2 linked regions of the Homo sapiens genome follow. The protein of the gene in region 1 interacts with the protein of each later gene in a pairwise test. Each region holds a gene or a part of one and is shown on either strand. Other genes may lie near its edges. The genes, in order: ARHGAP12 and SHANK2.

The links.
Region 2: the proteins of ARHGAP12 (region 1) and SHANK2 interact in binary tests that used the Homo sapiens proteins (3 or more experiments, as listed by UniProt).

Annotation. Positions count from the first base shown.
Region 1 is NC_000010.11:31,922,906-31,934,953, forward strand, and holds the start of ARHGAP12 (rho GTPase-activating protein 12), read right to left. Parts: upstream 5,927-12,048; 5' UTR 5,778-5,926; exon of another isoform or gene 5,757-5,777; intron 5,139-5,756; exon of another isoform or gene 1-5,138. UniProt on the Homo sapiens protein: GTPase activator for the Rho-type GTPases by converting them to an inactive GDP-bound state.
Region 2 is NC_000011.10:70,485,196-70,496,491, reverse strand, and holds part of SHANK2 (SH3 and multiple ankyrin repeat domains protein 2), read left to right. Parts: intron 1-4,026; coding exon 4,027-4,157; intron 4,158-6,104; coding exon 6,105-6,216; intron 6,217-7,143; coding exon 7,144-7,164; intron 7,165-8,771; coding exon 8,772-11,178; intron 11,179-11,296. UniProt on the Homo sapiens protein: Seems to be an adapter protein in the postsynaptic density (PSD) of excitatory synapses that interconnects receptors of the postsynaptic membrane including NMDA-type and metabotropic glutamate receptors, and the actin-based cytoskeleton.

The sequences.
Region 1 (12,048 bases):
TCACTTGAGGTCAGGAGTTCAAAACCAACCTGGACAACATAGCACGAACCCGTCTCTACAAAAAAAGTTTACAAAATTAGCTGGGCATGGTGCCACACACCTGTAGTCACGGCTACTTGGGAGGCTAAAGTGGGAAGCCTGTTTGAGCCTGGGAGTTCGCGACTGCAGTGAACTGTGAACATGCCACTGTACTGCAGCCTGGGGTGACAGAGCAAGACCCTAACAGGAAAAAAAAAAAAAAAAAAAACAGGCAAAATATTTAAACAGACTTGTCCAAAGATCTATAGATGGTAAATAGGCTCATGAAAATATGCCCAACATCTTTAGCCATCAGGAAAATGCAAATTAAAACCAAAAAGAAAGAAATGTCACCACACATCTCACAGAATGGCTAAGTCAGGTCATACCAGTGTTTTTGAGAATGCAGGGCCAGTGGAACTCACACACAAAGCTGGTGAGGATGTAAAACTGAACCAGCATTTGAAATAAGTTTGGCAGATGCTTAAAATGTTAAATATGCATCTACCACATGATTCAGGGATTTTCCTCTTAGGTATTTACCAACAAAAATTAAAGCATATGTAGACACAAAGACAGTAGTTTCATCTGTAACAAAGAGAAACTCGCAAGTCAATCAACAATTGAATAAACTAATTGTGGTATATCCACACAATGGAATATCACTCAGCAATAAAAAGGAACGAACTGTTGATACACACAGCAAACTGGGTGAATCTCAAAATAATTTTCTTGAGTGAAGAAAAATCCAGACCAGAATCCATAGTACACGAGTCCATCTGCATAAAATTCTAGAAAATTGATTTCCTAGAATCAAACTAATTGATAGTGACAGAAAGCAGAGCAATAGTTGCCAAGGGACATGGGGAATGAATCACATAGGAGCTCAAGGAAATTTTTGATGGGTGAAAGAAATGTTCATTATCTTGAAAATGGTAGTGGCTTCACAGGTATATACATATGTCAAAACTCTTCAAATTGTACACTTAAAAAATATGTGCAGCTTGTTATACAGCAATTATACCTCAAAACTGTATTTTTTTAAAAAAACTGTTAAAACCCTAATGATGCAAATTAAAACAACCAGGTATCACTACTCACCTACTGGATGGCTTTCAAAAACACAGAATGTTTTGTATGGTAAAGATACCAGCAACTGGAATTCTCTTCATTGCTGGTGGAAATGCAAAATGGTACAACCACTGCGGAAAATAATTTGGTAATTTCTAATAAAGTTAAACATACGCTTACTACATGATCCAGCAATCCCTCTTCTAGGTATTTACCCAAGAGAAATGAAAACATAAGTCCACACAAAGGCCTTACATGAACATTCATAATGGCCAGAAATTGAAAACTCAAAGGCCTATGAACTTGTGAATACAAACTGTGGTACAATCCATCTCTAAAATAGGAAACAGTACAAACCTCAAAAGATCCTTGTAAGAACGGAAAGAGAAAACACGAAAAAAAGCACTTAGATATAAAGCATGATAGATGGTATCACATTAATCACTGCTTACTCAAGGAAGCAAAAGCTGTAATAGAGAAATACAAATCATATAGTATGTAGCCTTCTGTGTCTGACATGTTTCACTTAGATTAATGCTTTTGAGATTCACTCATGTTGTCTCCATAGATCATTCTTTTTTATTGTTGAATGTTAGTTTATTTTATGTATGTACATTACACTTTAATAAAACTGAAATTTAAAAATATATATTATGTAGCAAAATATAGGAAATTTTCAGCCAACTTTAAAAGATGTCACTCTAACCTCATAACATATTCTGAATTCTGCTGTGGGGAAGGAAAAGAGCACAGAACTTGGAGTCAGAGGTCTAAATTTTAAATCTAGGCTTTACCATTTATCAGCTCTCAGGACCCTAGGCACCTTAACTTGCCTGTAAAACAAAGCAAACAATACAAACCTCAAAAGATGTTTGTGAGAAGAAAGAAAAAAAACTTTGTAACTTTCAGACGTCACAGAGTATCTACATTAATCAGTGCTTACTCAAGGAAGCAAAAGTTGTGAGAGTAGAAAAATAGTCACAAACGCACTGATAATTTATAAAACATCCTGTCTCTGTCTCTCGCTGTGTGACTCTGGACAAGTCATTTAACCTCTCTGGGCTTCAGTTTTTTCCATCTGCAAAGTGCAGCTTATTAGTAGTACATACTGCATACTGGGAGAATTAAGTAAATGTGTGTAAGGCACTTGAAATAGTGCATGGAGCATGGCAAGTGCTTTAAAAGTTTTAGGTCTTACTACAAAAAAACTATTATCATCATCCTACCAGACCCAATACTGGCCACCATCCTGCCCAAACAAGCTGTAGCAGTACAAGTGATTAATAATCTAGATCACTGGATTCTCAAACTTTTAGTGAGCAATGGAATAATCTGAAGAACTTTTCTAAAAATAAACTTCTTATTTTAAAAGAGTTTTAGATTTACATAATTACTGCAAAGATAGTCCACAGAGTTCCCATGTACTCTGGACCCAGTTATCCCTATTAACAACTTATGTTAGTATGGTACATTTGTCATATTCAATCAACCAACACTGACACATAACAATTTCCACACTTCATTCAGATTTCCTTAGTATTCTCCTAATGTCCTTTTTCTGTTCCAGGGTCCCATCCAGAATACCACATATACATTGTATAGCCATATCCCAGAGCGTTTTCAAACCACAGATTACAGGCTCTAGCCCTAGATATTCTAACAACAACCGGTATGAGGTGGGGCCCTAAAATTTACATTCTCAAGGATTGCTGATGAGGCCAATCTGAAAATACACTAAGAGTAACATTGGTCTACACTTTTAGACTCCAAAACTGTTGTTCGATACAGCAGTCACTAGTCAAATGTGCCTAATGCAAATTGAGAAATGCTCTAAGTGTAAAACACACTTGATATTTCAAAAAACCTGGTCCAATGTAAAGAACATAAAATATCTCATTAATAATTTTCCTATTACATGTTAAAATGATATTGTGAATATACTAAGTAAAATATATTCATTTATTTCACTTTTTTTCCACGTGCTTACTTTTTATAATGTGAATACTAGAAACTTTAAGCACAAGTAATTTATATAGGCATTACATTTCTATTGGACAGCAGTGGTCTGTGGTCTGGCAGAACAGCATCCATATGACCAAGTGGATATTAGAAGTGCAGGTGATTCCTATGCACGTTAAAATTTGAGAAGCACTAGATTATCAACAGGGGAAGGAGGCTTAGAGACTACACCATTTGGCAGTTCAGTTCAATTAAAGAGCTAATCAATTACAAAACGAAACTGCAGAATATTCATTAAGTCCATGAAGTCAATGAAAGTAATAGGGAAATGGCTGAATCACAGCAAAGCCATATACCAATGAGCCGGGGCCAGCTAACTGAAGAAAAAAAAAAAAAACCACAAGGATAGTGGCCCAATAGGTTCCTCAAAAGAGGTAATCTGAAAAGCCCGATTTGAAGTACAGTGATGCTATGTCGTACTACGACACCTTTCACATCTGATTCATACTACAAAATAGTGCATATTTGCAATTCTAGCCAAAATTGTTAAATACAGGACAAAAGTTTAATTTCACTTTTCTCTCCCATGATTTATTGTAAAACTGTGATGCCCATTTTCTCAGGTAAGTAAAATATTAGTACTACTGTTTAATGGTTAAACAGATCACCACTATTTAGTTTTTACTCCATTTAAAAATTTTAATCACCCGTATTATTTTCAGTAATATCACTTACGTAGAGTACTTAAAAATTTGTAAAGTTCACTTTCTATCAGCCTACTAAAAAACCACTGAGCAGATTCTTTCTAATTAAAGAAAAGTCAAATGATTAACTACAAGTAACATGCTGTTTTTCTACAGCACTTAATCTATTTTCATTTGCACCTCGAAACAACTGGTATTAGCAAATATAAAACCGAAAGAGATGCAATGTATTGATAATTATATATGAACAACTAATATATATATAACTAACTATACAGACGGCATTATCTTAACAATCAATGAGTCATCAGTCTTCTCCAGCTTGATGAAGTACGAACAGAAATCTATCAACAAATATTGGCGCATAAATATACATACACACATTATATTACACTTCTGGGGTTTCTTTTTCCCCCACAGAGAAACACTTTTAGAACAGTGGAGCCGCATGCAACCAGGGGTCGCACATATGTGCGCAGACGGTCTGGCTCGTCAGGTGGCATGGGTGGGGGTCACGCTTTCACTGCCTGCTTTGGGCTCTCAAAACCCAGCTCTGAAACGTTTCCAAGGCAAAATAAAAATAGCCAAAATGCCTATTCAGACCAGAGGAGGTAGAGGAAGATGACCGATTCTGTAAAACACCCTCCTACAGATAAAGAAAAGGCGATATGGGCAAGTACACACACATCTAGGCCATCGTTCCCGACTTTTAAGTATGAAAGAGGCGTGGCTAGGGGCTAGATACTTATTTTTAACACTTCCATTGAAACACCCGGAGTCTCCCAAGGTCTAACCTCTAGAAGTCGGGTGGCAGAACCTGAATCAGAACCCGAGTGAGCCTTCCTTCCTCCACCACCTCCCTTTAGGAACGCATGCCTAAATAGTCGATAAAATCTACTTCTCAATGTCATGATTAACCCAAAAGCCAGCCACAACCAATCGTGTTATTAGAGTGCTAAAAGCCTCTATCCACAACAAACACTCCACTTGGGATGACATTAAAACTTTCGATAAAGGTGTACTTTCAACGTCGTGCTTTAGCCTTTGAAAATACATTTACAAAACTGCAGCTGCAGTCAAAAGGAAAACATCACACGCCTCGAAAGCTGAAGGGCGTGCCTTTTTCTCTAACGAAGACCGTGTGGCCATTTCTTCTCAAAGGGTCTGCAGTCACTTAAGATAGCAACGCGTAAAGGACAGCCGTTCTGAGAAGACAACCAGCTCCCCTGAGATGGGAGGCGGGCTGCACGCTGGTAAAGAGGATTTTTCAATTCAAGGACTTTGAGGAGATTCCGCCCAGATAAGCTGGAGGGGAGCGAATGCACGTCCATCCAGCAGGGGCAGGGCACCGGGAAAGACCGCAAAGAAGAAAGTGTCCGGTTTAAGGTCAACAGTCCTCGAGGGACGCCCCAGGTGGATTCCCCGGGTGGGCTCCCCGGGTGGGTGGAGGCCTGCAAGCCCCACCGCGATTAGGGAGTGGGCCCAGGGCGCGGGAGGGGCCGGGCCGGCCTTTTGCGCACACACACACACACACACACACACCCGCCTTTTGCAGACACACGCGCGCGCACACACCCGCCTTTTGCACATAGACACGCACACACCCGCCTTGTGCACACACGCGCGCACTCTCCCGCACTCACACACACACCCGCGCACCCTCACACTCTCCTCCCTGGGGGCGGGGCGGGCGGGCGCTGCCCTCACACAGGAAGTCAGGAAACCCAGGGGGCAGAGAAGCCACAACTTCGGGCCATTTAAACCCTCTCGCCCACGTCAGCCAATAGGCTGCGCCGGCCCCCTCCCCCTCGGCGCCTAACCCCCGCGCCCAGAGCCCCTCGCTGCGCGCCCGACCTCCCTTTGCGCGCACCTCCGCGGCGCCGCCGCCGCCGCCGCCGCGCCTCCCGCACACGCCTCCCCCCGACTCCACCGCCCTCGGCGGGCACAGCCCGGCCCCGGCGCGCCTTTGTGCAGCGCCTCGCCAACCTGCCCTCCGTCCGCCAGGACCCGCGCCCTGCACCTCACCGGGAGCCCGGCGGCCTCGCAGCAGGCGGCTCCCTTCTTAGTCCGCCCCGCGGCTGCGGGTCGACGACGCGAGCCCGAAGAGCGTTCACACGGCTACGGCCGCGGCCGGCCCGTCCCCGCAGGCTGGCCTCTGAGGGAGGGTAAGTTACAGGGCACGTCGGAGCGCGCCGGCGCGGGGGCGGGGCTCACGTGACGCGCGGGGGCGGGGCGGGAGGCTCACGTGATGGCCCGGGCGAGCTGGGCGGGCGCGGGTCTCCGGGACGGTCTGGGGTGGCTAGGGGGTGCGGCGCCCGGCGGGGATCCGAATAGGGGGCAGCCAGCGTACGGTGTGGGAACTCGGGCCGGCGCGGGAGCCTGCGGTCAAGGGGGCTCAGCACTTTGTAAACAAGGAGTGGGAAGCGTTAAAAAAACGCTCGTAGGGAAAACCAGGGAAGGGCGGACATAGCGCCAGGGTGGCAGGAATGGAGCCCGGGCAAAGACGGCCCTGCCGTGGGCCCTAGCGCTCCCTTCGTCGGCCCCTGGAGCTGCGGCCGGGCGTGGGTCAGTCGTTCACGGGCCCGGAAATTCCACTGGGACACCCGAAAAAGTGCTGCACGCCGCCTGAGGGAGACGGAAAGGGACCCGGGGCACTGAGTCCATTGCTGGGGTCGCCAGGGTACGTGGCAGGACCCGCTGTGCACACTCGGGACTGAGGAGACCCCTGGGACGCGGAGAGCCGCTCCAGGGCAGAACCAGTCCGTCAGCATTTAGCCTTCCACGGGCCTGAGGGTGCGAGCCCTGCGGGGGCCACAGGGTCATTGTCCAAAGTCATCCCCGTTTGCACTGTGGCAGCACCGAACCCGGAAGTAACAGCTTTGGCAGGTCTTTGATGGTGATCCAGTGGCAGGAGGAGCTCAGCTGGAATGGGAATCAGGAAAGAGACCTGGCTTCTGCCATTTATTGGCACTTCACCCTTCTGAACCTCAGCTTTCAAATGAGAGCTGGCTTCTAGGTCTAGAATACAGTGAGTGTGAGAAAAATAACTGAGAGGCGTTGGGACTTCAGTAACTACTCATTCCTTAACCAGTTGTTGATTGTGCCTGTTGTGCCAGGATGAAATATTTGTTAATAATAGAGACCAGAAAGGAGAGGGGGGAAAAAACAAGCATATGTATGATTCAAGCAATGAAGAGCTACTCTCCGGAGTTGGCTCTTTCCTGTGCTTCACTTCGTACTTGAAGATGCCACAATGCCTGGCTTCCTTATCAACCAGCTGAACTCCGAATTGTGCCTTACAGGATGCGAAGAATCCGGTAGGGCAGTGGCAAGACTTTAACAGCTGTGGTTTACAACCTTCTTATTAAATTAAGTCTAATGCGAGCTAAAGTGTTAAGATAGTCTCCATTTAGAAAGGAAAGAGGCTTACAATGAGAATTTTTGAAAAATAAGCCTGAGACTGTGCTGTCTCTATCGTTGCATTTGCTTTTCACAGTCCTTGGCACCCACTGCCTTTTTGTCTCCCTCGGTTTCTAACCCGTTCTGTTTTCTTGCATTTGTTCAGTATAAGGAGTATTTCCTGTATGCTTTGGCAACTATTTTCCATAGACTCTGCTTGTGTTCTCCTTATAAAACCAGAACAAGAGCAGTGCAAAAAAGAAAACGACCCTGATAGGAATGCGCTGATAACCTTACTTTCCCTACTCTCCAAACCTGAATTGGGCACCCTTGGTTTTAGCAAGAGATAGAACTCAACAGTTTGCATACACTTGCGGATCTGCCTGTAACCCCACTTCCTATTTCACAGCCTAATCTCGGATGATACCACAATGCCCACAGTATGCTGATCACCACCAACAGCAGATGGAGGCGGATAAAAAGAGCTTTCTCGCTAGTGTGTTGTTTTAAAAGAACCTGATGGAGAGCTATGATCATATGTAACACTGCCTCTAGTTAGTTTTTAAATAACACTTGTAGCATATGTCTGGCGCCTGTGCTCAGGATTTCAACAGATCATTTTCAGGATTTTGACATTTAACTGGCTTCTTATGAAGTAGCAGAGAGTTCCAAAATGTAGAACTGAAATATAAGCTCCACACACAGGCAGAGATTTGAGTCTGATTTGTTTGTGTGTATATCCCAAGTGCCTAAAAGCACTTGGCATACGGTAGATGCACAATAGATTCCTGTTAAATGTATTTTTAGGTGAAAATGTAGTCTGTACTTTGCATAAACTTGTCCTACTTTCTTCCTAGTTCTTTAATAAGTAACCTACTTTTCATTATATATTTTTAAATGAAAAAACAAAATTATATCTGGCATCACTACTTTGGCTGGGCTATAAAGAAACAGGAATTTGGCAGTATGTATTAAAATTACAAATGCATATATACTCGGAGCCTTGAATTTCATTTCCAGGGATTTATGCCACAGATGTTTCCACACATAAGAAATAACAAGGTGTTTCTTATTGTTGAGAATAGCAAAAGATTGGAAACAAGCTAAGTATCTATCAACAGGATACTAGTTAAATTATGATAGAGCCATATGTTTGAACATTGTGCAGCTGTTAATCAAAAAAACAGAAAGTTCTTTGTTTTAACATTAAGATCTCCAAGATTTTTTTGTTAAGTGAAAAACACAGAAATACGGTACAGAATATTGTATTAAATTGTATATGCATTAAACTAGGACAAAGTAACATGAGGTATGAGAACACAGTAGATGGAAAGCATAAGAAATAGACTTCATTGTATTCATATTTAAACTTTTTGATATTCAAAATTTCAGAATGTTTTATCTATTCAAATAGTGAAAATGTTTAAAATTTTTCTGGCATCTTTTTGTTGTTGTTGTTGTTATTAAAACATTCAGGCTTCTTCTGTTTTATAAAAGTTTACCTGAGTAAAATAAACATATCAAGGAGGCTGGGTGCAGTGGCTCATGCCTATAATCCCAGCACTTTGGGAGGCTGAGGCGGGCAGATTGCTTGAGCTCAGGAATTCAAGACCAACCTGGGCAACATGGCAAGACCCCATCTCTAATGAAAATACAAAAAAAAAAAAATAGCCAGGCATGGTGGTGTGTGCCTGTGGTCTCAGCTACTCCAGAGGCTGAAGTAGGAGGATCACTTCAACCCAGGAGGTGGAGGTTGCAGTTAGTCAAGATTGTGACACTGCACTCCAGCCTGAGTAACAGAGTGAGACCATGTCTCAAATAAATAAATAAATAAATAAATAAATAAAATCAGGTAAGCTAGTGCTCATAGGCAAACTTTTGAAAACCTCAGAGTTTTTGTTCAGATTGAATGATGTCTGTTTCTTACCGTAATAATTTAAAATCCAGGTACATTTATTTTGAGGCTTAGTATACATTTTATCAAATGTATATAAATTTTCAGAAGTACTCTATTTTTCTTCAAGTTTAGTAGAGCCTTCCTTGAACAAGTTTTAACAAATTGGATCCTCCATTTTAAACAATAAAATTAGAATTTCATGGATCATTTGTCTGTTAATTAAGGTCAACAAAATATATTTTGGGAAAAACGCTAAAGGCATATGTTTCTCGTGTATCTGTTCACTCACCCATTTTGTAATATCAACTGCTTCTTGTTTCCATGGGTTACACAGATGCCCTGTAAATGATTTTGTCTGATATGTTTCAGTATTTGATTATATTTATTTGTGGGCTTAATTTCCAGAAATCTCAAAGAGAATAATGAGTACAATAGCAGTCAGATTTGCATAACACATCTTTAAGGGTTTTAGGAGATTTATTAATATTTTCTTGTGAAATCTCACTGCTTTCACTATATAAATTCATATGATCAGTTTTAACTATTATTAAAGACAAATATTAGTACTTGTGGTCAGGTGTGGTGACTCACACCTGCAATCCCAGCACTTTGGGAGGCTTAGGCAAGTGGGTCACCTGAGGTCAGGAGTTCAAGACCAGTCTGGCCAACATGGTGAAACCCCATCTGTACTAAAAATACAAAAAATTAGCTGGACATAGTGGTGCACGCCTGTAGTCCCAGCTACTCAGGAGGCTGAGGCAGGAGGATTGCTTGAACCCGAGAGGCAGAGGTTGCAGTGAGCCAAGATGGTGCCATTGCACTCCAGCCTGGGTAACAGAGGGAGACCCTGTTTCAAAAAATAATAATAATAATTAGTACTTGTAATAGTTGATTATACAAATTAGGACATTCTTGTCATACCCAACTAACTCAAAGAGTCCAGGAGTGGGGGGAAAAATCACTCAGGGCACATAGCACCAGCTCCAAAAATTAAATTTTCTGCAAGCCCAGCTGCTAAAACAGCCTGCTGTAACCATAAGAATAGTTTTACCTAGTAGCTGCTGAAATGACCTACTGTGACTCATAGACTAGTGTTACCTACTGCTGTCTTCAGCAATCAGAGTTTGCCAGCTCCCCAAAGCTTCTCCAGTAGCAGTGAGCTTTCTTTTAAAACAAAACATAACATTTCTCCTTCTAATAAACTACCAACCTTCTTTTTGTTCTTTGAGCATACCAAAGACCACCTGTATGTGCATATATATATATATATATATATATATATATATATCCCAAATTCCAATTCTGTGATTCCCAAATAAGATGTTTAGAGATTCATCTCTATATTTTATTTTGATTTCTACATACTTGAAGTCAGAAGTGGGATCCAAAGCAGGCTCACCTTGGAGAATTAGCACCTGGAATGTGGCATGAAGTACCCAAATTCAGGCCTCTTGAGCCCCCAAACTTCTACGAGCCACCTCTTTTCCCCATGGTGAGTCTCTGTTGGCTTGAACTCATATTTTTTCTTTTGGTTTAGTTCAGTTTTATTTGGGAATTGGTTGGGAGGCATCCTTCCCCGCTACCAGCTATGAAATCTTCTGTTTAGGGGAACTTTCTCCCTCCTTGCTATAGACTTGGTTAAGATGAATACGTTTTTCTTCCTGGTTATGAGGACTCCTGTTTAAAAGGGATTTTTTTCTCTCTTTTGTTAAAGAAGGCTTATTATCCCTCTTGGGGAGTACATACTTTATTTTCTGATTCATTTGCACACTTGGATTTTAAATTGGTTTTTGTGGCCAGGCGCCATGGCTCATGCCCGTAATCCCAGCACTTTAGGAGGCTGAGGCAGGCCGATCATTTGAGCCCAGGAGTTCAAGACCAGCTGGGCAGCATAGTGAGACCCCATCTCATATATATATATATATATATATATATATATATATATAAGTTTTTGTGTATTTGTCATTAAACCAAGTCAGCTAAATTTATTTACAAATGGGCTCTCAAAGTTCAAAGGCATGCCAAAATAATTCCCCCTTCTGAGACTCCAGCTGACGTGTTCAAACATTATAGGGATCATTAAAAAAGTCCGTTTTTCTTAAAACTAAAGTAAAGGGCCACATCTATGAAATCATACAGTCCAAATAGGACAGATATCTCAATTGGTATCTTGAGGCTCAAAGACTCACATTCAAGACTCAAAGATTGCCTCACTGCAAAGTACTGTCACAAAGCTACCTGGGACTCATTCTTCCCCAAAACCTTTCCATCCCCTTCCTCCTCCTCCCCTTTATCCTTCTCTATGCTAAACTCTCTTTTTCCAAAACTCCTCAACTATTCTGGCATACTGATTAATAAGAATCTATTCTTGGCCGGGCACAGTGGCTCACGCCTGTAATGCCAGCACTTTGGGAGGCCAAGGCAGGCAGATCACGAAGTCAGGAGTTCGAGAACAGCCTAGCCAGCATAGTGAAACCCTGTCTCTACTAAAGATACAAAAAATTAGCCAGGTGTGATGGTGGGCCCCTGTAATCCTAGCTATTTGGGAGGCTGAGGCAGGAGAATCGCTTGAACCCGGGAGGCGGAGGTTGCAGTGAGCCGAGATCACGCCACTGCACACCAGCCAGGGCAACAGTGTGAGACTCCATCTCAAAAAAAAATTTAAAAAAGAAAATATATTCTTAATAGTTACTATTAAAACTGTAGGGTTTTTTTTTGAGATGGAGGAGTCTCTCTCCATCGTGTAAGCTGAAATGCAGTGGTGCAATTCGGCTCACCGCAACCTCCACCTCCCAGATTCAAGCAATTCTCGTGTCTCAGCCTCTCAAGTAGTCGGGATTACAGGCGTGCACCACCACACCTGGCTAATTTTTGTATTTTTAGTAGACACAGGGTTTCTCTGTGTTGGCCAGGCTGGTCTTGAACTTCTGGCCTCAGATGATCCACCTGCCTCAAACTCAAAGTGCTGAGATTACAGGCATGAGCCACTGAACCAGCCAA
Region 2 (11,296 bases), on another chromosome or scaffold:
GGTGTATTTAACAAGATGCCTGCCGCAGGCCCTGAGGTCCTAAAATCGCAGCCTGCAGCCTGTTCATTTTGGGAATGTGAGAAGTCGAGGCGGTGCCCCAGGGAGGCCGGGCAGCAGACCCTCAGTGTGCAGTGGATGGAAATGAATCAGCCTCATCAGCTGTGGGGTTTGTTAATACATAAAAAACAGACACATGGCTTCTGGAAGGGCCCAGTTGGAAACGGGAGCTTCTTGAAGATTTGGCTCATTTAAATTGTAATCCCAGGAAAGCTGTTATGCCCTAGAGTCCCACCTTCCTTGATGTGCCCAGACATGGCCAACAGCACAGCAGAGCCTGGCCACAGCCTTCCCACACCCACCTGCGCCCAGGCCTTCCCCTGCAGGGCCTCGGCCGTCCTGCATCTTCTGGGTCTGACACCTGTCAATGTTCAACGCCGATGACTTTCCCTCACCTCCGCTATTCAGCCCCAGCTGCCACCTTAGCCTCTGAGCTTACCATAGCCTGGAAGTCAGGCCTGGAGGGATGCCCAGGCGTTTCTGGCTCGGATGGGCCTTCCTGCATCTCCACAGGTGCAGGTCTGAGCACAGGCAGGTGGCAGCCAGGAAGGCACCCTTCCCTGTCTGCACCTGTGTACAGTATCAGGTGGGCTGGATTCTGCGGCTGCCCCCAGAGCTCGCCACCTGGAATGCCCCCGTGGGATGTTTTGTTGGGCTCCAGCTGCTCTTCCCCTAACTTGGTGGCATCCCTTCTGGGTCATGTTCATGGAGGTACATGCTGCTGCACCCCGCTCAGGCCTCACGCTCCACTGGGGTCAGAGGAGGGGCCCGGGCCAGCACTGTCAGGAAGCAGGTCCCAGGGTATCCCCACCCCGCAGTGCCCTGGCTCACCACAGCTATGGGACATAACTCCCTGGTGCAGGAGACACATCTCAACCCCCGTTTCATTGGAGAAAAATACTCTGGGGGCCACCAGCGGCCACATCTCACTTGAGGCAAAGAACAGCCACTGCCTAGCGCCCCCATTTCCAGGGATAGACCAAGCTGGAGTTGCACATCACAGCCGGCCAGAGGAGATCACCCAAGCATCACCTGGTCCCAAGTCAAGGGGGAGAAGCCCAGCTGATCGGCGAGGCCAGGGAACAGAGGCCGGCACAGAAACCAATTCGACCCCAGCCATCCAAGGAGTCCCAGCCCAGCCCTGGGAGGGGAAAGGCTCCTTGGAGGAAGCAAATTGCTGGGACCATGGCAGGTGGACCCAGCCCGTGCAGCCCAGGGAGGTTGACAGGGACCCCAGCAAAGGGAATGTGAGATGAGGCAGCCATGCAGCACCTGCTGCAGCCGGAGGAGCTGGGATGAGGGCCTTGAACGCAGGTGAGGACAGCACGGCTCTGGACTGGGGTCACAGGTCACAGCCAGGATGTCCCCACTGCCAAGTGAGATGAGAATCGGGTGTTTCCTACCGTGCCTGACCAGTTCCCTGAGAAGCAGATGCTTAGCATCCACTGGGGGAATGACAAGGTCCCCAAGGAGGCATCAGGCTCATCGAAGAGCCAGCAGGGCTTGTGGGTCCAGGAATAACAGGAGAGAATGCATGAGCAGGGACGCAGAATTGGGGCCCAGTGAGCCTGCAGGCCTGGTCAGCTGGACTTGGTCATGAAGGGAGAGAGTGCTGTGGGGGGAGATTTGGCTGCCCGGACACTATGGGGCAAGGGCTTTCTTGCTTTGCGTGAACACTTGGCATTTTGCTGACAACTGGAAACGTGGTCCAGGCCAGGGGTCGGCAAACACCTCCCTGAAGGGCCCCATGGTAAGTGTGCTGGGCGTGACAGCCATATGGCCTCTGCTGCACATTCTCCTGCCTTTTCTTCCCCATCCTTGTTTGAAGACTAAAAGTGTATGGCTGGGTGTGGTGGCTCACACCTGTAATCCCAGCACTTTGGGAGGCCAAGGCGGGCACATCACTTGAGGTCAGGAGTCTGAGACCAGCCTGGCCAACATGGTGAAACCCCGTCTCTACTAAAAATACAAAAATTAGCCGGGCATGGTGGTGCTCGCCTGTAATCCCAGCTACTCAGGAGGCTGAGGCACGAGAATTGCTTGAACCCAGGAGGTGGAGGTTGCAGTGAGCCAAGCAGCCCAGGTGACAGTGAGAGTCCATCTTAAAGAAAAGAAAAAAAAGTATAGACTGCCCTGAGGTTCTGGCCCGGTGGGGGCAGGACTGGCCCAAGGGTCTGGAACACAGGCCTGGAACCAGGCCCCTCATGCAGACTCTACTGTGAGAGTGTCCATAGGTGTCAGAGTTGTGTACGTCTCAGCTGCTCTGCAAGGTTGAGGGGCCATCACAGGGCGCCTGGCTCAGTGTCCCCAGCACACCCCCATTTCCTCTCCCCAAACTTCCTCTTGTGGGGACCTCTGGTCTGGGCTGCCTTTGTCAGGAGCCTGATGCCTTTGTGTTGGACAACCCTGATCCGTGCCGTGGCTCTGGGAGCTTTGCCCGTGGGTCAGCTCCCCGTGAGAAGCTGCCATGACAGGTAACTTCCGCCTCAGCTTGAAGAACAATTTGGAGATGGGGGCCTTCCTCCCTGCACTCTGCTCAGCTCTAACTTGCACAATAGCCTCATGGCTCAAAGTCTGGGCAAGGCCCTAGCATACACTTCATGGGAGCCACCAGACCCCAAGAGTGGGCTTAGGGTGGCCAGAAGGCAGAATGTTCCAGATGGCCTGCTTCTCCCCAGGGAGTAAGGCCAGTGCTGTCTCAAAGGCTCAGAATGGGGTACACCCACCAGATACCACACTGGCTTTGTCCCAACCCAGTGACATCTTAGAAGTACAGCTGGGGTCACCTTTTCCAGAATGCACATCGCGACTGGAAGACCAGCTCTCCAGGTCTCAGTGGCACAGGGCCCTTGCATTTAAACAGCCTTAGACACACCCTTATGCCTGATCCCAAACACCCTGAGATGAAGCTAAGGCGTCAGGAGAGCTCTGGGATGTGCTTCAGTTTTCAAGTAAAAAAAAAAAAAAAAATGTGCTGCAAATGTCCTCTTTAAAAAACTTTTGTTAATTGCTAAGGATCCCTTATAACTAAACTTTGGTTTTCTTTTTTTTTTTTTTTTTTAAAGGAAATGGGAAGGTTCTGCATTGGGGAAAATAAACAGAGACCTTCCCTCTGCAACACTTACTAACGCCTGGGGCCACGAGCACCCTGGCCTCTGAAACACCCACGCTGCCTTGGGTGGCAGATCCTCATGTCTTGGCAATCACAGTTACAAAGGAACCATATGTCTGAGTCTCTTCAAAAAAAAAAACAAAAACAAACAAAAAAAAAAACTTCAAAAAGTCAGTTTAGTTAACCCTCACAAGAATAAATCCCATTAGAAAGAATCAAGTGATTCCACTAAAGAAATGGCCCAAATGGCTGTAATCCCAGCACTTTGGGAGGCCAAGGCCGGTGGATCACTTGAGGCCAGGAGTTCAAGATCAGCCTGGCCAACATGGTGAAACTCCGTCTCTACTAAAAATACAAAAATTAGCTGGGCGTAGTGGCAGGTGCCTGTAATCCCAGCTACTCTTGAGGCTGACGCAAGAGAATTGCTTAAACCTGGGAGGCGGAGGTTGCAGTGAGCCAAGATTGCACCACTGCACTCCAGCCTGGGCAACAGAGCAAGAGACTGTCTCAAAAAAAAAAAAAAAAAAAAAAAAAACACAGAAATGTCCCAAAAAACAGAAATGTCCCAAAAAGCTTCAGAGCCCTTGGGGGCTGGGCACTTAAGAAGGTGGCCGAGCTGTGGAGGGTCTTCTATGTCCATGCCTCGTGCATGCCTCCGAGGGCAAGGTCCTGGGAAGGAGCCCATGCCCCAGTGGGAATGCATGTGGCAGAGGCACACGCATGCTCCTCACAGCAGCAACAAATGCCCCCTGCACAGTTTTGGATGTTGGAGTGGCTGCTGCACCTGTGCGCTTTCCTATCTACACCCAGCTTCCCCCACTGGTGTTGCTGCTCCAATCCTCACGGTTCTATTGCAGATAAACCCGAGGAGATAGTCCCGGCCTCCAAGCCCTCCCGCGCTGCTGAGAACATGGCTGTGGAACCGAGGGTGGCGACCATCAAGCAGCGGCCCAGCAGCCGGTGCTTCCCGGCGGGCTCAGACATGAACGTGAGTGGCCGTACCTTGGGACCACGAGGGCGGGGGCCGACGGTGCCCAGGAAGTGGGTGGGCTGTCTCAGTAGCTGAGGTGCACACGCTTTCATGTCTGGTTCGTGCTGTCCAGAGGTGGGGCCCAAATCTAAGTGGCCACAGGACAAAGAGCCGGGTCTGTGCAGACTCACAGTGGTGGGACAGAGCAGGCTGCATCCAAGCCCTGCCCTTACCGCTCACTCAGTGCCCTGAGCCTCGAAGGTGTCCTGTCATACTTGGCTGAGGACCCGTGAGCACATGGAAGTAAGGGGCCTTGACACACTCTTCAGACAGAGGGGCTCTTGCCTCCTGGTCCACCCAGAGCACAGAAATGCTCCGGTGTGGAAGAGGCCGTCTGTCCCACATCCCATGTGGCAGTCCCCCACACTCTCCGAGATCCTGGGCAACACTTGTCCTCGGAGCCAGAAGTGCCATGAAGGGCTTCAGTGGCTGCTGGGCGCAGTGGGTGCCTGGCTCAGAGCAGGCTGCCCGTGCCATGGTCACCTTCCCTAGGCAGTCAGGAGGGCACACAGCTGGAAAAGGGCCTGGGGCAGAGGCTGCTGATTCCCCCAGGCACGTCCTGAACAAGGCGTGGCCTCCTGGACCCTTGGATTGCTTCTCCATTGTGCAGAGGCAGCCATCTGAACCTGATGTCAGATTCTAGCACTGCCTACCTGTCCTGATTGCTTACCTTAGTATTCTCTTTGAACCAGTATCAAACTGCCTATGTCTAGCTTTTTCTTGAACAATAACACCTATAAATATTATAAATTTACCACAAGGCTTTTCTGTAATGTGCATTAAACAACTGTTAATAATTACAGTTACAATATCTGCCCTCACACCTCCTCCCATCACCTCTGAACTCCACAAGGGGACTTCCCCTCCAGGCCCTGCCTGCCGGTCCTTGCCTCCCACTTTGTTCCCAGTCCTTCGTGGCACCCACATGCCCCACCAAGTTGGGGGGGTGTCTGAGACAAGGTGCCCTTGATCTCCCAAAGGGTCCCACTTTGCTCCTCAGCCTCAGGGCCATAGAGTGAGACAAACAGAGGCTGTGGACACATGGAAACTGCATCTCAAAGCTGGAGCAATAAAAGCTTGCACACGAATATTTCCATTGAGCGTCCGCATCTGATATTTTCCCGGGTTGGCCTTCAACACTACAGGTTTGGGGCCCTGAGCCATCTCAGTTTTGCAGACAAAACAACAGCCTGGGGAAGCGAAAGAGTTGGCAGCACCAGGACTCTGCTTCCAAGGTGGAGGGGAGGAGGGGAGCTCTAGGCTCCTCCTGGGACAGGCTGAAGAGGGAGGAAGCTGGGGACAGCTCACTGCTGCAGACTCCAGGCTGTGCCCCTGAGCAGCTCCAGGGCTTGCTTAAGCTAGCTGGCACATCATGCTCACCCACACACCACCACAATACCTGGTTGGCCTTTGCACACACTGTGGGGCTGGTGTCAGGAGCCCATTTTATGAAAGAGGAGATGGTGGCTCCTATGTAAGGACTTGATGGTCACATGGCACATGGGGAGTGGGGTATGGACCCAGGCCAGACCCCACTGCCCACCACGCTGTGCCCTTTCCCACAGGACATCCAGCCTGGCCCCCCTCTCAGAGAGACGTATCTGTCCAGCTGCTCTGGCAAATGGTGTTGCAGCAGACCACATCTCCATGGAACAGGGCATGCTGCCATCCTAACAGGGCCAAAGGCCAATAGCAGCTGCAGCGAATAGGAAAGGCACCTAGAGAGGGACCTTCCTGGGTCCTCAATGCTGTGGTTCTCATCAGCCCCACTGGAGACTTTAGGTGGCTCCAGAAGCAGCTTGGGGAAGCCACAGTGACGGAAGTTCCCTTGTGGTCTCTGGGCCCTGTGACCGTGGGTGGGGGCTGGCCAGGGCTGCGTCTCACCCTAGGCTCTCTGGTTTGCAGTCTGTGTACGAACGCCAAGGAATCGCCGTGATGACGCCCACTGTTCCTGGGAGCCCAAAAGCCCCGTTTCTGGGCATCCCTCGAGGTACGATGCGAAGGCAGAAATCAATAGGTAAGAAGTGTGGCACTCCCCCACAGAAGTTGCCCCTGGGCTTTCAAACACAGCCTTAGGCCCCTCAGGAATTCTGAGCCCTGGGCCTCTCACAGTTGCCTTGGCGTCCCACCCCAGCAAGGCCCTGCCAGCCCACCCACCAGAGGGTGGGAACCTGGCCTTGCCCACTAGGGAGCCATTGGAACATCTGAGTGGCATGAAACTCATCCCCCCTGAAGGACACAAAATCTAGGGTGGCTTCTGTCATCTTGAAGCCCAGTTATCTGTGATAATTCCAGCAGGGTAAAGCGGGAGGGTGGGCGGGGTGGTGCGAGCCAACCCCCCTCCCCCACCCTGCCCTGCTCAGGGTGGGAAGGGTAAGTGGGTTCCCTGCATTCCCCAGCCACCACCAGGCCTGGAGTATGAGCTCAGCAGATGTACTTCCAAGGGTGGTTGGGTCAGGTCTCGAAATGAAATAATGTACTGTGTGTTGCAGAAAACTGCCTTCCTTTCTTCTTAATGTCACAATTATTCCTATTGACCCTGTTGCAGGCAAAGGTACACTTGACCTTGAGACAAGGTCACACTTGACCCTTTGAGACAGTCCCTTTGTGAGATAATTCAGCATTGCCTTTACTGTGTCAATTCTGGTAGAAGCTAAGGCCCTTGCCCTGTGAGAGTTGTGGAGGCAACCCTGGGACTCTGGTCTGCCCAGCCCACCCCAGGGGCACTGTCCTGTGTGTTCTGGAAATGCCTCTGGGCTGCTGTGCAAAAGCGCAGCGTGCTTGTGAGTCTCAGGTGGATAACTGTAGGCAGTCACTAGGCAGTAAGTGGCCGTGGAGGTGGTGTCTGCTGTGCTTAAAGCTCCCCCTGCACCAGCAAACTCAGGGAAAGCTGCGTATTTGTCTTGCGGTTACTGGTTAATAACAACTGATTTCCTCCTGTCAGACAGCAGAATCTTTCTATCAGGTTAGTGAACCTTACGGTTTGGAATCTGTAATCTGAATGTAACCCAGTTTACTTTATAAGGTGTATTCTTAAATTAGTACTCCTTGGGAACAGAATTGCCAGACAGCCAACTCAGAGTGACTGGTCAATGGAGAACACTTTGAACGAGCCATCTTTGCAATGCCAAAATGTCCTCCCACAAGGAGTATGTTAAATTTGGAATACCCTTATCGAATGGAAGTTTTCATTGGAATAAATTATTGTAGTTTGTCCTAGGACTTTTTTTCATTTCAAGTAATTTATTTTGCTACCTCTTTGAAAACCTGCATGCTCCCAACATGAAATCCCTGTGCCACGCGTCTGTCGGTGTGTGTGCGTGTCTCGCTTCCCTTCTCCAAGTGCTCCTGTTGACGTGTCTGTGTCTTCAGCTGTTGAACAGTCTGTAAAGTCACACCTAGGCAACACACCCAGAGAACCCTCAGGCCACCCTGCTGGCTGTCGTAGGACCTCAGCTGCATCCCCACACATTCAACATCCACATATTTTCATTAGGTCAACTCATACTTTGTGCCAGGTCAGCCACACTTGGACCCTGGTTAGTTGCGATTATGGTGGTCCACTGGGCTCTCAGCCCCTGCTCCAAAGGGTCTTGGCAGGACCACTTTCAGGGCTGCCGCTGGGACCCAGAAGGGGCTCACTGAGGCCTGGCTCAGGATCCTATTCCTGGCTCAGTCCAGGACTTTAAAGGAACCTGGGCTCCCTCCCCTCAGGGGCAGGCTCTAGAGCCCACATGGCCCCTCCTCTGAGCTGCAATTCCCCAGCCATCCATCTCTCTGAAGGTCCAGAGAGCTCGAGGACACATAGAACCCTTAGTGGGGCCCAGTGAAGTCAGGCAATGAAAGGATTCACATGACCCTGGAAGAAAAGCACCTCCTCCCAGCACGCACAGAGCCAACCGTGGGCAGATGGCTTCGCTCAGGGTGGCAGAGGCCTCCCTGTACATCTGGGCAGCCGTGGGGCTCAAGTGCCATCTGGACGGTGGACTGCACACCATCCTTGCCACATAAACACAGCAATACCTGCAACCCTTTGCTCTCATTTCAGATGCACAGGTGACAGCCTTAGACCCCTGCCCTAAAAACACCCCCAGGAGCCCTTACCATGCCTGAAGGGGCATGGTGGAAGGATACCTCCTGGTCTAGCCAACCCCGCCCCAAGCACAATGCCACAATGCCAGCACAAGCACACGTAAGCGCACACACACACGCACAAGCAGCCCCAAGGCGAGCTGCCCACTTGGCCTGCAGACTGGCACACGGCTCAGCGTCAGGGGCCCTCCTGCCCTGGCCTCACACAGCTCCCCTGCTGCAGCCTGTGCCTGGAGGCCCCACAGCAGCAGCGTACTCACAGCATCCCCAGTGCCTTTCTGTTCTTCCCTTTCTTGTCCTTTGGCTCACGACGGGCCATGTGACTAACCACTCGGCATCGTGGCTTGTGCTGTGTTTCCTGAACATCCGGTTCATCATCTGAATTTGTGAGTTTGTGGAGATGTAGCGTATCGCACGTTCCTAGGAACTTAGGCTTTGTTGCTATTGTGACTTAAAGCTAAACCTGTTTTCTGCTTGTAGGAATAACAGAGGAAGAGCGGCAGTTTCTGGCTCCTCCAATGCTGAAGTTCACCAGAAGCCTGTCCATGCCGGACACCTCTGAGGACATCCCCCCTCCACCGCAGTCTGTGCCCCCGTCCCCACCACCACCTTCCCCAACCACTTACAACTGCCCCAAGTCCCCAACTCCAAGAGTCTACGGGACGATTAAGCCTGCGTTCAATCAGAATTCTGCCGCCAAGGTGTCCCCCGCCACCAGGTCCGACACCGTGGCCACCATGATGAGGGAGAAGGGGATGTACTTCAGGAGAGAGCTGGACCGCTACTCCTTGGACTCTGAAGACCTCTACAGTCGGAATGCCGGCCCGCAAGCCAACTTCCGCAACAAGAGAGGCCAGATGCCAGAAAACCCATACTCAGAGGTGGGGAAGATCGCCAGCAAAGCCGTCTACGTCCCCGCCAAGCCCGCCAGGCGGAAGGGGATGCTGGTGAAGCAGTCCAACGTGGAGGACAGCCCCGAGAAGACGTGCTCCATCCCTATCCCGACCATCATCGTGAAGGAGCCGTCCACCAGCAGCAGCGGCAAGAGCAGCCAGGGCAGCAGCATGGAGATCGACCCCCAGGCCCCGGAGCCACCGAGCCAGCTGCGGCCTGACGAAAGCCTGACCGTCAGCAGCCCCTTTGCCGCCGCCATCGCCGGAGCCGTCCGCGACCGTGAGAAGCGGCTGGAAGCCAGGAGGAACTCCCCGGCCTTCCTCTCCACAGACCTGGGGGATGAGGATGTGGGCCTGGGGCCACCCGCCCCCAGGACGCGGCCCTCCATGTTCCCCGAGGAGGGGGATTTTGCTGACGAGGACAGCGCTGAGCAGCTGTCATCCCCCATGCCGAGTGCCACGCCCAGGGAGCCCGAAAACCATTTCGTGGGTGGCGCCGAGGCCAGTGCTCCGGGTGAGGCTGGGAGGCCGCTGAATTCCACGTCCAAAGCCCAGGGGCCCGAGAGCAGCCCAGCAGTGCCCTCCGCGAGCAGCGGCACAGCCGGCCCCGGGAATTATGTCCACCCACTCACAGGGCGGCTGCTTGATCCCAGCTCCCCGCTGGCCCTGGCACTCTCCGCAAGGGACCGAGCCATGAAGGAGTCTCAACAGGGACCCAAAGGGGAGGCCCCCAAGGCCGACCTCAACAAACCTCTTTACATTGATACCAAAATGCGGCCCAGCCTGGATGCCGGCTTCCCTACGGTCACCAGGCAGAACACCCGGGGACCCCTGAGGCGGCAGGAGACGGAGAACAAGTACGAGACCGACCTGGGCCGAGACCGGAAAGGCGATGACAAGAAGAACATGCTGATCGACATCATGGACACGTCCCAGCAGAAGTCGGCTGGCCTGCTGATGGTGCACACCGTGGACGCCACTAAGCTGGACAACGCCCTGCAGGAAGAGGACGAGAAGGCAGAGGTGGAGATGAAGCCAGACAGCTCGCCGTCCGAGGTGCCAGAAGGTGTTTCCGAAACCGAAGGTGCTTTACAGATCTCCGCTGCCCCCGAGCCCACCACCGTGCCCGGCAGAACCATCGTCGCGGTGGGCTCCATGGAAGAGGCGGTGATTTTGCCATTCCGCATCCCTCCTCCCCCTCTGGCATCCGTGGACTTGGATGAGGATTTTATTTTTACAGAGCCATTGCCTCCTCCCCTGGAATTTGCAAATAGTTTTGATATCCCCGATGACCGGGCAGCTTCTGTCCCGGCTCTCTCAGACTTAGTGAAGCAGAAGAAAAGCGACACCCCTCAGTCCCCTTCGTTGAACTCCAGCCAACCAACCAACTCTGCAGACAGCAAGAAGCCAGCCAGTCTTTCAAACTGTCTGCCTGCCTCATTCCTGCCACCCCCTGAAAGCTTTGACGCCGTCGCCGACTCTGGGATCGAGGAGGTGGACAGCCGGAGTAGCAGCGACCACCACCTCGAGACGACCAGCACTATCTCCACCGTGTCTAGCATCTCCACCCTGTCTTCCGAAGGTGGAGAGAATGTGGACACCTGCACAGTCTATGCAGATGGGCAAGCATTTATGGTTGACAAACCCCCAGTACCTCCTAAGCCAAAAATGAAGCCCATCATTCACAAAAGCAATGCACTTTATCAAGACGCGCTCGTGGAAGAAGATGTAGATAGCTTTGTTATCCCCCCGCCCGCTCCCCCGCCCCCGCCGGGCAGTGCCCAGCCTGGGATGGCCAAGGTTCTCCAGCCAAGGACCTCCAAGTTGTGGGGCGACGTCACAGAGATCAAAAGCCCGATTCTCTCAGGCCCAAAGGCAAACGTTATTAGTGAATTGAACTCTATCCTACAGCAAATGAACCGAGAGAAATTGGCAAAGCCGGGGGAAGGACTGGATTCACCAATGGGAGCCAAGTCCGCCAGCCTCGCTCCAAGGTAAGTCCGCGGTTGGTGCACATGCACACCGCTCTGCGTGCACTGTCCCTGCTGACCAGGAAAGGCCCTCGGGTAGCAGCCCCAGCGGACACGAAGAGGGGAATTCGTAAAGCCTGTG